3 linked regions of the Homo sapiens genome follow. The protein of the gene in region 1 purifies or fractionates together with the protein of each later gene. This does not show direct contact. Each region holds a gene or a part of one and is shown in the gene's direction. Other genes may lie near its edges.

Region 1 (3,748 bases):
GGCGTGTGCCACTGCGCCCAGCCAGCTATACCATTTTTTTCAAGTTTTTGTCTTTGAAGCTGGGATGCATCTTACAATTCATAGCATGTCACACTTTAATTGGCAGCATGTTTCTCTTGTGGTACATAAAATTATGGCAGACTTACAGTCATAAGCACCTTAGATTCTTTGAAGTATAGTTGTCTTCTGTTGTGGTGTTCATTTACTTTCAGGCCAGGGCACATTGACACAGAAATTCCACACTTCCTTAGGAGGCATTCCTTTTCATTTCAACGAAAACTTCAGACAACTGACGGGGTTTTGCAGATAGTGAGTAGAGGAGGTGCAGCAGGTAAAAACGATTCCAGAAAACCAGGGCAAGAGGGGCATGCAGGCCTGCTGTAGTGCAAAGGACTTTGTGATGAGCACACAGGTCTTTTTTTGAGATGGAGTCTTGCTCTGTCACTCAGGCTGGAGTGCAGTGGCACCGTCTTGGCTCACTGCAACCTCCACCCCCCGGGTTTAAGCGATTCTCCTGCCTCAGCCTCCTAAGTAGCTGAGATTACAGGCACACGCCATCACATGTGGCTAATTTTTATATTTTTAGTAGAGATGGGGTTTCACCATGTTGGCCAGGCTGGTCTCAAAACTCCTGATCTCAGATGATCAGCCTGCGTCAGCCTCCCAAAGTGCTGGGATTACAGGCGTGAGCCATCGCGCCCAGCCTCACACAGGTCTTTAGGTGGCTGGTGTCACAGGGTGGACTTCAGTCAGGCCCATTCAGAGCAGCTCCTCCTGCCTGGCCTATCATGAGGGTTCAGGTCCTTACACCTTATTGTCTGTTTTCACAGTGAGAATATGGGAAATTCTCTGGCATCTGTTTTCTGGGAAGGTTTACTCTATTTCAGCACCAAGGACCTAAGACAGGCAGCTGCATTTCCTAATCCTGATTCCTTAAAGTAAACTGTTACAGCCAGTTAGTGTGATCCTGGAGTGTGTCCAGCTGCAGAGGCAAGAGCTAGTACCTGTGTGGCAGACCGGAAATAGATTTCAAAATGCACAGCTGCAGAATTCAGGAGTAGAATGAAGGCCTAGGGTCAAGCCCTGTTTTTCATCGTGGGCTCCTCCATTCACGCTCGTTGACACCTTTCCTGGCCATGCTGTTTAACTTCCATGTCAAGAAAAAACCCTGACAAAGCCTGGTAATACTGACACAAGTGGAGTGTACTTAAGCAGAGAGGGAGTGATGTTCACTAGGCTGTTGTTCTTCCCCACCCTTTGGCATTTGTGTCGTGTCCTGACGCCTTGTTTGTGTCTTCCGCCTTCAGTGCTGTTCCCTCGTCACACCAATGCCAGTGCTCGAGACAACACCATCAACCTGATCCACACGTTCCGGGACTACCTGCACTACCACATCAAGTGCTCTAAGGTGAGGGGGGTGCCAGCATCTCAGCCTCTATGCTCTGGGTCTTTTCCTCCACCAGAACTCCTGACAGAAAGTCATTCCATTAGTCTACGCTGTGGATATTGACTCTTAGGTAAATAATTCTAGAGGCTTCAAGAAACCATGGTCTTTCTTCATCAAGCCACTGTCCCCCATCCCTCCCTATAGCAGAGATGAATATTTGTTTCCAGAATTGCTCACCTTCCTGCTTCCCTGCAGGGCCTGGGTCAATCCCAGGGTGTATGTTCCCAACCGCCCTTGATGACCTCTCTGATGAAAGACAGCAAAGCTGTCTTTCTAGACCATGACTGTGCTTTAGTACCTGTTATGTTTGTTCCCAGGCCTATATTCACACACGTATGCGGGCGAAAACGTCTGACTTCCTCAAGGTGCTGAACCGCGCACGCCCAGATGCCGAGAAAAAAGAAATGAAAACAATCACGTAAGTTAGGCAGCACCCCAGCGACCACCTTCCTCTCCTGAGTCACCGAGAAGGAAGCAGTGGGCGCTGGTGGCCTGGTCCTCCATGTATCTGGGCACTGGCTACATATGAGGTCAGCAGGGCTAAGTAGATAAACCAAAGGTGGGATTCCATGTTCTCACTGCCATATAGGCCAGGATGGGTTTCCTTGTTTCCGTATCTTTGTGAGCTATGAGAATGGCAGCTAGGAAATAAACAAAGTTTACCAAGAGACTGTTCTTTTTGGGCCTGAGTTATGAGGTCAGTCTTGTGCTTTTGGTGGTCTTTCTGGAGAGATGGAGTAAGTTGCTTAGGGACCTTTAATTGGGTAAATAGGCCTGAAACCACCCCACTAAGTGTTCTTTTTCCTGGTCCACTCTCAGCAGGAAGTTTGCATGCAGAGGAAGGTTCTCTTTATCAGGGATAGAATTGAGGAGAGCCGTGACGGGCGCTGTGGCTCACGCCTGTAATCCCAGCACTTTGGGAGGCTGAGATGGGTGGATCACAGGGTCAGGAGTTCAGGACCAGCCTGGCCAAGACGGTGAAACCCCATCTTTACTAAAAATACAAAAAAAATTAGCCGGTCGTGGTGGCAGGTGCCTGTAGTCCCGGCTACTCGGGAGGCTGAGGCAGAGAATTGCTTGAGCCCAGGAGGCAGAGGTCGCAGTGAGCCAAGATTGTGCCACTGCACTCCAGCCTGAGCGACAGAGTAAGACTTAGTCTCAAAAAAAAAAAAAAAAATTTGAGGAGAGCCCTAAATAGGGGTGTGGCTCTGCATGCAGGAAAGGCGAGCATGGCCTAGAGCCTAGAGAGTTCCATCTTTGTGAAAGGTGCCAGACCTTGGTTCTTCTGATGAAATTCAGGCAGTCCTGTCCTTAAGATAAGGTAATAGTGTTCATTTGCTGGTTTTTGTTTGTTTGTTTGTTTTTTGGTGGGGGTGTTGGGGGAGACAGAGTCTCACTCTGTCGCCCAGGCTGGAGTGCAGTGGCGCGATCTCAGCTCACTGCAGCCTCTGCCTCCCAACTAGCTGGGACTGCAGGTGCACACCACCACGCCCGGCTAATTTTTTGTATTTTAGTAGAGATGGGGTTTCACCATGTTGCCCAGGCTGGTCTAGAACTCGTGAGCTCAGGCAGTCCACCCACCTCGGCCTCCCATCTGCTGTCTTTTGTACCAGTTGAACTAAAAGTCTTGAGGTCATAAGCCTCCCTCACAGCCAGTGTTATTTGCCAGCACCCCAGTACTGTTGTTGTTTTGTTTTGTTGTTTTGTTTTTGTTTTTTGTTTTTTGATACAGAGTTTCGCTCTTGAAGCACAGGCTGGAGTGCAGAGGCACAATCTTAGTTCACTACGACCTCTGCCTCCTGGGTTCAAGCAATTCTCTTGCCTCAGCCTCCCAAGTAGCTGGGACTACAGGCGTGCGCCACTAAGCCCCACTAATTTATTTGTATTTTTAATAGAGACAGGGTTTCACCATATTGGCCAGGCTGGTCTTGAACTGCTGACCTCGTGATCCACCTACCTCAGCTTCCCAAAGTGTTGGGATTAAGGAGTGAGCCACCGCGCCCAGCCCAGTACTCTGTGATCCCCAGCCAGGCTCAACCTCCTGGGCTCAAGCAATCCTCCCATCTCAGCCCCCCAAGTAGCTGGGACCACAGGCATGCACCATCACAGCTGGCTAATTTTTGTATTTTTGTAGAGACGGGATTTCACCATGTTGTCCAGGCTGGTCTCGAACTCCTGGACTCAAGTGATCCTCCCACCTCAGCCTCCCAAAGTGTTGGGATAACAGACATGAGCCACCACACCTGGCCCAGCACTCAGTACTCTTGAGGCAAAGTTTTAGTGGGTGTGGTACGCCTAGGG
Region 2 (3,748 bases), on another chromosome or scaffold:
TCACCCATGAAAGACCTCCCCATCAGCGGCATACATTGCATCTGGTGGGTGTCATGTCTTTTAAGTCTAATTTAATCTGGAATAATTTCTTAACCTTTTTTTGTCTTTCAAGATGTTGGCATTTTTGACAGCCAGTTGTTACCTAGTGTTTCTCTGTGATAGATACAGGATATGCATATTTGTCAGGACTACCACAGAAGTCCTGTTGATCCTTCTTAGTGCATCCCATCGAAAGGCTTAAGATAGGGACTCGCCTCAGTCTTGATGAAGTTCACTTGGATCATTTGGAGAGGGTGATGTCCACGAGGTTTCTTCACTGTTCAGTTACTATTTTTCTTTGTAATTAATAAGTCATTTGGCTGGGCGCGGTGGCTCATGCCTGTAATCCCAGCACTTTGGGAGGCCGAGGCGGGCGGATCACCTGAGGGCAGGAGTTCGAGACCAACCTGGCCAACATGGTGAAACCCCGTCTCTACTAAAAATACAAAAATTAGCTGGGTGTGGTGGTGCGTGCCTGTAGTCCCAGCTGCTTTGGAGGCTGCTCAGGAGAATCACTTGAATCCGAGAGGCGGAAGTTGCAGTGAGCCGAGATCGGGCCACTGCACTCCAGCCTGGTGACAGAGCGAGACTCCATCTCAAAAAAAAAAAAAAAAAAAAAAAAAAAAAAGTCATTTGTGGGGGAATATTTTATGTAAGTACTCTATTCTTAAACTTTCATCCATTAGTTTAAGTATCCATTGGTGACTCTTGTTTTTTTCTTTTTTTTTGACAGAATCTTGTTCTGTTTCCTAGGCTGGAGTGCAGTGGCACAATCTCTGCTCACTGCAACCTCTGTCTCCCAGGTTCAGGGAATTCTCCTGCTTCAGCCTCATGGGTAGCTGGGATTACAGGCATGAGCCACCATGCCCGGCTAACTTTTTGTATTTTTGGTAGAGACGGGATTTCATCATGTTGCCCAAGCTGGTCTTGAATCCTGATCTCAAGCAATCCACCCGCCTTGGCCTCCCAAAGTGCTGTGATTACAGGCGTGAGCCACTGTGCCTGGCCCATTGGTGATTCTTGCCTGAATTACTAATTATGGTGATGGTTGCAAAATGGTGATTTTTGAACTCTATTATTCTGTCTCCATTTATTAGTTAACATTTTATTTTAAGGAAGAACTTATCCATAGGCCTCATTTGTTTATTGTCTGTATGAGTTGTCGTTCTGTTCAAAGAATGATAATCCATTATGCCGTCCTCATTGTTGTCAGTGGGTTATCTATTGCTTAAATTGTCCCAGATTTTGCCAAGTGAAGCTCATTCAGGCTGACTCCCATGTTCTTTATTTTTTATTTATTTATTTTTTGAGACGGAGTCTTGCTGTGTTGCCCAGGCTGAAGTGCAGTGGTGTGACTTCAGCTCACTACAACCTCTGCCTCCCGGGTTCAAGCGATTCTCCTGCCCCAGCCTCCTGAGTAGCTGGGATTATAGGTGTACACCACCACGCATGGCTGTTTTTTTGTATTTTTAGTAGAGATGGGGTTTTGTCATGTTGGCCAGGCTGGTCTTGAACTCCTAACCTCAGGTGATCTGCCCACCTCTGCCTCCCAAGGTGTTGGGATTACAGGAGTGAGGCACTGCACCTGGCCTTCCATGTTCTTTAGACATGTCTTCATTTTTTGAGCATTCTGGCCAGGCGCAGTGGCTCACACCTGTAGTCCCAGCACTTTGGGAGGCCGAGGATGTGGATCACGACCCGTGGTCAGGAGATCGAGACCATCCTGGCTAACACGGTGAAACCCCGTCTCTACTAAAAAAAAAAAGAAATACAAAAAAATTAGCCGGGCACACTGGTGGGCTAATTTTAGTAGTCCTAGCTACTCAGGAGGCTGAGGCAGGAGGATCGCTTGAACCAGGAGGCGGAGGTTGCAGTGAGCTGAGATCGCGCCACTGCACTCCAGCCTGGCAACAGCGAGACTCCATCTCAAAAAAAAAAAAAAAGAAAAAATAAAGCAAGGATATCTTTTTGTATTTTTTGCCTGAGTATCTGTGGCTTAGATTTTTAGAAATGGGATTTCTGGGTCAAAGGGCAAATGCATATGTAATTTTGCTAGGCAGTGTCAAATTACACTCATTAGTGTGCATTCTCACCAGTAATGTGTGAGGATGCCTGTGTCTTACAGACTCACCAATAGAGCCTATTGCCAATTTGTAAAATTACCAACCTAGAATAAATGATATCTTAATGTCTTTGTTTTGTGTTGCTGTAACAGAATACCACACACCGGGTAATTTATAAAGAAAAGAATAGAATGGTGAAGGTGACAGCAGTTAGTTGGAGTGAGCATCCTCCAAAGTTCTACAGTGTGGCCGAGGACCTTGATTGTACATTGTTCTTTATTTTACTTATTTATTTTTATTTTTGTTTTGAGACTGGGTCTTACCCTGGCCCTTTTTTTTTTTTTTTTTTTTTTCCGGAGACAGAGTTTTGCTTTCATTGTTCAGGCTGGAGTAGAATGGCGCGATCTTGGCTCACCACAACCTCCGCCTCCCGGGTTCAAGTGATTCTCCTGCCTCAGCCTCCCAAGTAGCTGGGATTACAGGCATGCGCCACTATGCCCGGCTAATTTTGTATTTTTAATAGAGACGGGGTTTCTCCATGTTGGTCAGGCCAGTCTTGAACTCCTGACCTCAGGTGATCTGCCTGCCTGGGCCTCCCAAAGTGCTGAGATTACAGCCATGAGCCACTGCGCCTGGCTTTTTTTTTTTTTTTTTAAATAGTCATTCCACATATTGTGAGATGCATTGTTACAGGAAGTCCCTTGCCCTCCCAAAAGCCACCCCACTTCTCTCAGGAGAACGGCCCAGTTCTCTCCTGAGTCCACAAAGGGGAGGTTACAGGATTGCTTTCATGTAAATTATGTAATGCAACATTTAAAAAAATCTTCACCTTAATACTTTTTGTTTTATTTTGAATAATCAGCTATCATGGTCCCCATTTTTGTCCCTACCTTGAGATGTATGAAGGCTTTTGGTCTCCCTGGGAGTGGGTGGAAGTGTGGAGGCATCCAGGGCATACCTGTACACTGACTTGAGACCAGTTCAGTAAAAGTGCACACCTTAAAAAAAGAAAAAAAAAAGTTTATTTGGCTCACAGTTCTGGAGGCTGCAGAGTCTTAGAGCATGGTGCCAGCATCTAATGAGGCCCTGCGTGCTGTGTCATCCCATGGCGGAAGAAGGAAGGGCAAGAGTGGGTGAGATTGTGAGCACGAGAGAAGGCTGAACTTCATATTTTAACAACCCACTTTCATGATTATGATAATCTTCGCATTTATTTTTTTCGGTCTCTTCATTTCTCTAACTTTTCTCTGGGGTTTTGGTCTTTTGCTTCTTCATTTTTAGAAGCTCTTCATGTATTAAGGTCTGTTCAGGGGTTCCGCAGACCACTCCCAGTTCCAGTGACTTGCTAGGAGGAATCAGGACTACGGTGAAAATGTACAAAGCAAAAACAGCCAAGGGAAAAGATGTGGGGTGGAGCCTAGAGGAAACCGGGGCAAGCTTCCCGAGTCCTCACCCAGTGCAGCCGTGCAGGATGCAGTTAATTCCTCCAGCATCAGGCTGTGACAACACGTGTGCAATGCTCCGTACCAGGGAAGCTCCTCAGAGACACAGGGCCCAAGGTTTTCACTGGGGACTTGTCATGCAGGCACCCTGTGCATAGCACGTGCCGGAATTCCAGAGTCCCAGAAGGAAAGCAAGGCATTGGC
Region 3 (3,748 bases), on another chromosome or scaffold:
TCGGCCTCCCAAAGTGTTGGGATTACAGGTGTGAACCACTGTACCTGGCCGGCATAGCTTAGTCTTAAATGAAAGTCTAGGCCGGGCGTGGTGGCTCACGTGGTGCACGCCTGTAATCCCAGCTACTCTGGAGGCTGAAGCAAGAGAATCGCTTGAACCCAGAGGCAGAGGTTGCAGTGAGCCGAGATCGGGCCATTGCACTCCAGCCTGGGTGACAAGAGGGAAACTCTGTCTAAAAAAAAAAAAAAAAAAAAAGGAAAGTCTAATGGTGCACAGTGCCTTTGCTGTTATATTTTTAAATGCTTAGAGTTAATGACTCTGCACATCTTTTTCGAACCTGAAGTCATTTGTGACTCTCTCTTACACGCCACATCTAGTCAACCAGTAAATTCCAGGTACTCTACCTTCAAAATTTACCCAACTTAAGGCCGGGTGAGGTGGCTCACGTCTGTAATCCTAGCACTTTGGGAGGCCAAGGCAGGTGGATCACCTGAGGTCAGGAGTTCGAGACCAGCCTGGCCAACATGGTGAAACCGTGTCTCTACTAAAAATACAAAAAAAATTAGCCGGGCATGGTGGCGGGTGCCTATAATCACAGCTATTCGGGAGGCTGAGGCAGGAGAATTGCTTCAACCCAGGGGGCAGAGGTTGCAGTGAGCCAAGATTGCGCCACTTCACTCAAGCCTGGGCGAAAGAGCAAAACTCCATCTCAAAAAAACAAAAAACAAAAAAAACAAAATTGGGACTGGGCGTGGTGGCTCACACCTGTAATCCCAGCACTTTGGGAGGCCAAGGCGGGCAGATCATGAGGTCACGAGTTCGAGACCAGCCTGACCAACATGGTGAAAACCTGTCTCTACTAAAAATATAAAAATTAGCCAGGCGTGGTGGTGTGCACCTGTACTCCCAGCTACTTGGGAGGCTGAGGCAGGAGAATCACTTGAACCCTGGAGGCGGAGGTTGCAGTGAGCTGAGGTTGGGCCACTGCACTCTAGCCTAGGCGACACAGTGAGACTCCCTCTTAAAAAAACAAAAAAACAGGTCAGGCGCAGTGGCTCACGTCTGTAATCCCAGCACTTTAGGAAGCCGACGCAGGTGGATCACCTGAGGTCAGGAGTTTGAAACCAGCCTGGCCCACATGGTGAAACCCTGTCTCTACTAAAAATACAAAAATTAGCCAGGTGTGGTGGCAGGTGCCGGTAATCCCAGCTACTCCAGAGGCTGAGGCAGGAGAATCACCTGAACCCTGGAGGTGGAGGGTGCAGTGAGCTGAGACTGTGCCACTGCACTCCAGCCTGGGCAACAGAGTGAGGCTCCATCTCAAAAAAAATGAATAAAATAAAACAAAATAAGAAATTGGTGGGGCACGGTGGCTCATGCCTGTAATCCCAGCACTTTGGGAGGCCGAGGTGGGCAGATCACCTGAGGTCAGGAGTTCAACACTAGGCCAGCCAACATGGAGAAACCCCGTTTCTACTAAAAATACAAAATTAGCCAGGCATGGTGGCGCATGCCTGTAATCCCAGCTACTCGGGAGGCTGAGGCAGAATTGCTTGAACCCGGGAGGCAGAGGTTGCGGTGAACTGAGATAGCCCCATTGCAGTCCAGCCTGGGCAATAAGAGCAAAACTCCGTCTCAAAAAAATTAAAAAAAAATTTACCCAGCTTGTTCCCACCATCCTCATTGGCCCCTGCCTGGTTGGGCTACCACTGTCTGTCCCCTGGATGGTTGCTGTCACCATCTAAATCACCTCTCTACTTTGGTTCTCGATCCCAGATGTGTTCTCAATACAGCTGCTTAGAAGGCCCTTTTCAAACAATTCAGACTTCTGATCTATTACTGTTCTGCTCAGAATTTCCAGGGCTGTCCCATTTGAATTAAGACTGAGTCCTTTCCTCGGCCTACAGAGCCCTACTCTCCTCCCAACCCCCACCTCATCTCTCTTCTGTTCCTGGCTGTTTCTCGAATATACTGAGCCCACCCCAACCTCTGAGCCTTCGCTTAGTTGCCTCCTTCATTTCCTTCCAGTCTCTGTCTAGTGTCACCTCCTCAGGGACACCTTTTTTTTTTTTTTTTTTGAGATGGTATCTCACTCCATCGCCCAGGCTGGAGTGCAATGGTGTGATCTCAGCTCACTGCAACCTCTGCCTCCTGGGTTCAAGCGATTCTCCCCGCTCAGCTTCCCGAGTAGCTGGGATTACAGGTGTGCGCCATCATGCCTAGCTAATTGTTGTGTTTTTGTAGAGATGGGTTTTCACCATGTTGGCCAGGCTGGTCTCGAATTCCTGACCTCAGGTGATCTGCCCCCTGGGCCTCCCAAAGTGCTGGGATTACAGGTGTGAGCCACTGCGCCCGGCCAGGACACCTCCTTTGATCACTTTATCTAAGGCACACTCAGGCACTGCATGGTTTTTTTCCCTCTCAACACTGTCAGCCCTGACATCGTATAATATGGATTTTTAAATTGTGTCTCCCTGGCTGGAATGAAAGTCCATGACCATGAGCTGGGACATTATTCCATTTACTAGTTTCTTTGGGGGCTGTTTCTTTACTTGTAAAATGGGCATTTCTGGGTTCAAGTTCCTTCTGACCAGGATGTTCTGGGGATATGAATTTCTGCTGTCTCGTGGCAGACCTGAATCACAAATATTTTTTCCCAGATATGGAACTGTATTGCAGGTGGGCTTTGCATGTTTCCAGGACCCCTGAGACTTTTCTTTTCTTTTCTTTTTTTTTTTTTTTTTTGAGACGGAGTTTTGCTCTTGTCGCTCAGGCTGGAGCGTAATGGCGCGATCTCAGCTCAGTGCAACCTCTACCTACCGGTTTCAAGCGATTCTCCTGCCTCAGCCTCCCGAGTAGCTGGGATTACAGGCATGCGCCAGCACGCCCGGCTAATTTTGTATTTCTAGTAGACACGGGGTTTCAGCATTTTGGTCAGGCTGGTCTCAAACTTCTGACCTCAGGTGATCCGCCCACCTCGGCTCCCAAAGTGCTGAGGATTACAGGCAGAGACTTCTTCACCACTAGTTTCCCACTATGGGAGTCTGTATCCTTACCACCGAAGATAAGGTTGCATCATAGTCTGGCAATATTTTTTTTATCTTTAGACACAGTTCAATGAGAGGTATTCGAAGCAGCAAAAATGAATCACATTCCAACTACTGACTTTTATTAAAAAGAGTACTATTAGATGAAAATAGTTTTCACACTATTATATAAAAAGACCCATTTTACTTACCCTAAGGCTAAGATCAATTAACAGAACCCCTGGGATAACAGCCCAGGCACCAAATCTGGCACCTCAGAGTCGTCCTTGACTTCCCTAAACCGCTTTCCCCCATCTCAGATTCTGAGAATTTGGTTTCTGTCAAGATGTGCCTCTCCAGCCAGGCCTCTCCTGCCAGGACGGTGGCCACAGGGCCATCTCCCTCTCCTGGCGCCCCCAACTGCCTGGCCAAGGTGACTGCTACACACGTGGGGTCGCAGAATCCCTCGAGTCACAACGTCTTCAACGTCTTGTCAGTCCCGTGATCGCACTAAACGTATTTAAAGCCCCCTACTCCTTTAAGAGGGTCACCTCTGTGTACAGGCGGCCTCCTCGTACTAAGTGTGGTGGCGTTCAAGGCTCCGAGACACAGGCGCCTCCCGCGCCACTCCCCGGGCACAGGAACTCCTACTCATCCCTCAGTCATCAGCTCGAAGGTTTCTTCTCCAAGAAGCCTGCCCGGCACTCGAGAAGTAGAGCCGC

The links.
Region 2: the proteins of ARPC2 (region 1) and ACTR3B purify together in Homo sapiens (affinity purification with mass spectrometry; 7 studies listed by BioGRID and IntAct, with this or other methods). This does not show direct contact.
Region 3: the proteins of ARPC2 (region 1) and ARPC5L fractionate together in Homo sapiens (co-fractionation; 7 studies listed by BioGRID and IntAct, with this or other methods). This does not show direct contact.

The regions. Positions count from the first base shown.
Region 1 is NC_000002.12:218,248,057-218,251,804, forward strand, and holds part of ARPC2 (actin-related protein 2/3 complex subunit 2), read left to right. Parts: intron 1-1,307; coding exon 1,308-1,408; intron 1,409-1,764; coding exon 1,765-1,865; intron 1,866-3,748. UniProt on the Homo sapiens protein: Actin-binding component of the Arp2/3 complex, a multiprotein complex that mediates actin polymerization upon stimulation by nucleation-promoting factor (NPF).
Region 2 is NC_000007.14:152,762,677-152,766,424, forward strand, and holds part of ACTR3B (actin-related protein 3B), read left to right. Parts: intron 1-3,748. UniProt on the Homo sapiens protein: Plays a role in the organization of the actin cytoskeleton.
Region 3 is NC_000009.12:124,865,082-124,868,829, forward strand, and holds part of ARPC5L (actin-related protein 2/3 complex subunit 5-like protein), read left to right. Parts: intron 1-3,346; 5' UTR 3,347-3,748. UniProt on the Homo sapiens protein: May function as component of the Arp2/3 complex which is involved in regulation of actin polymerization and together with an activating nucleation-promoting factor (NPF) mediates the formation of branched actin networks.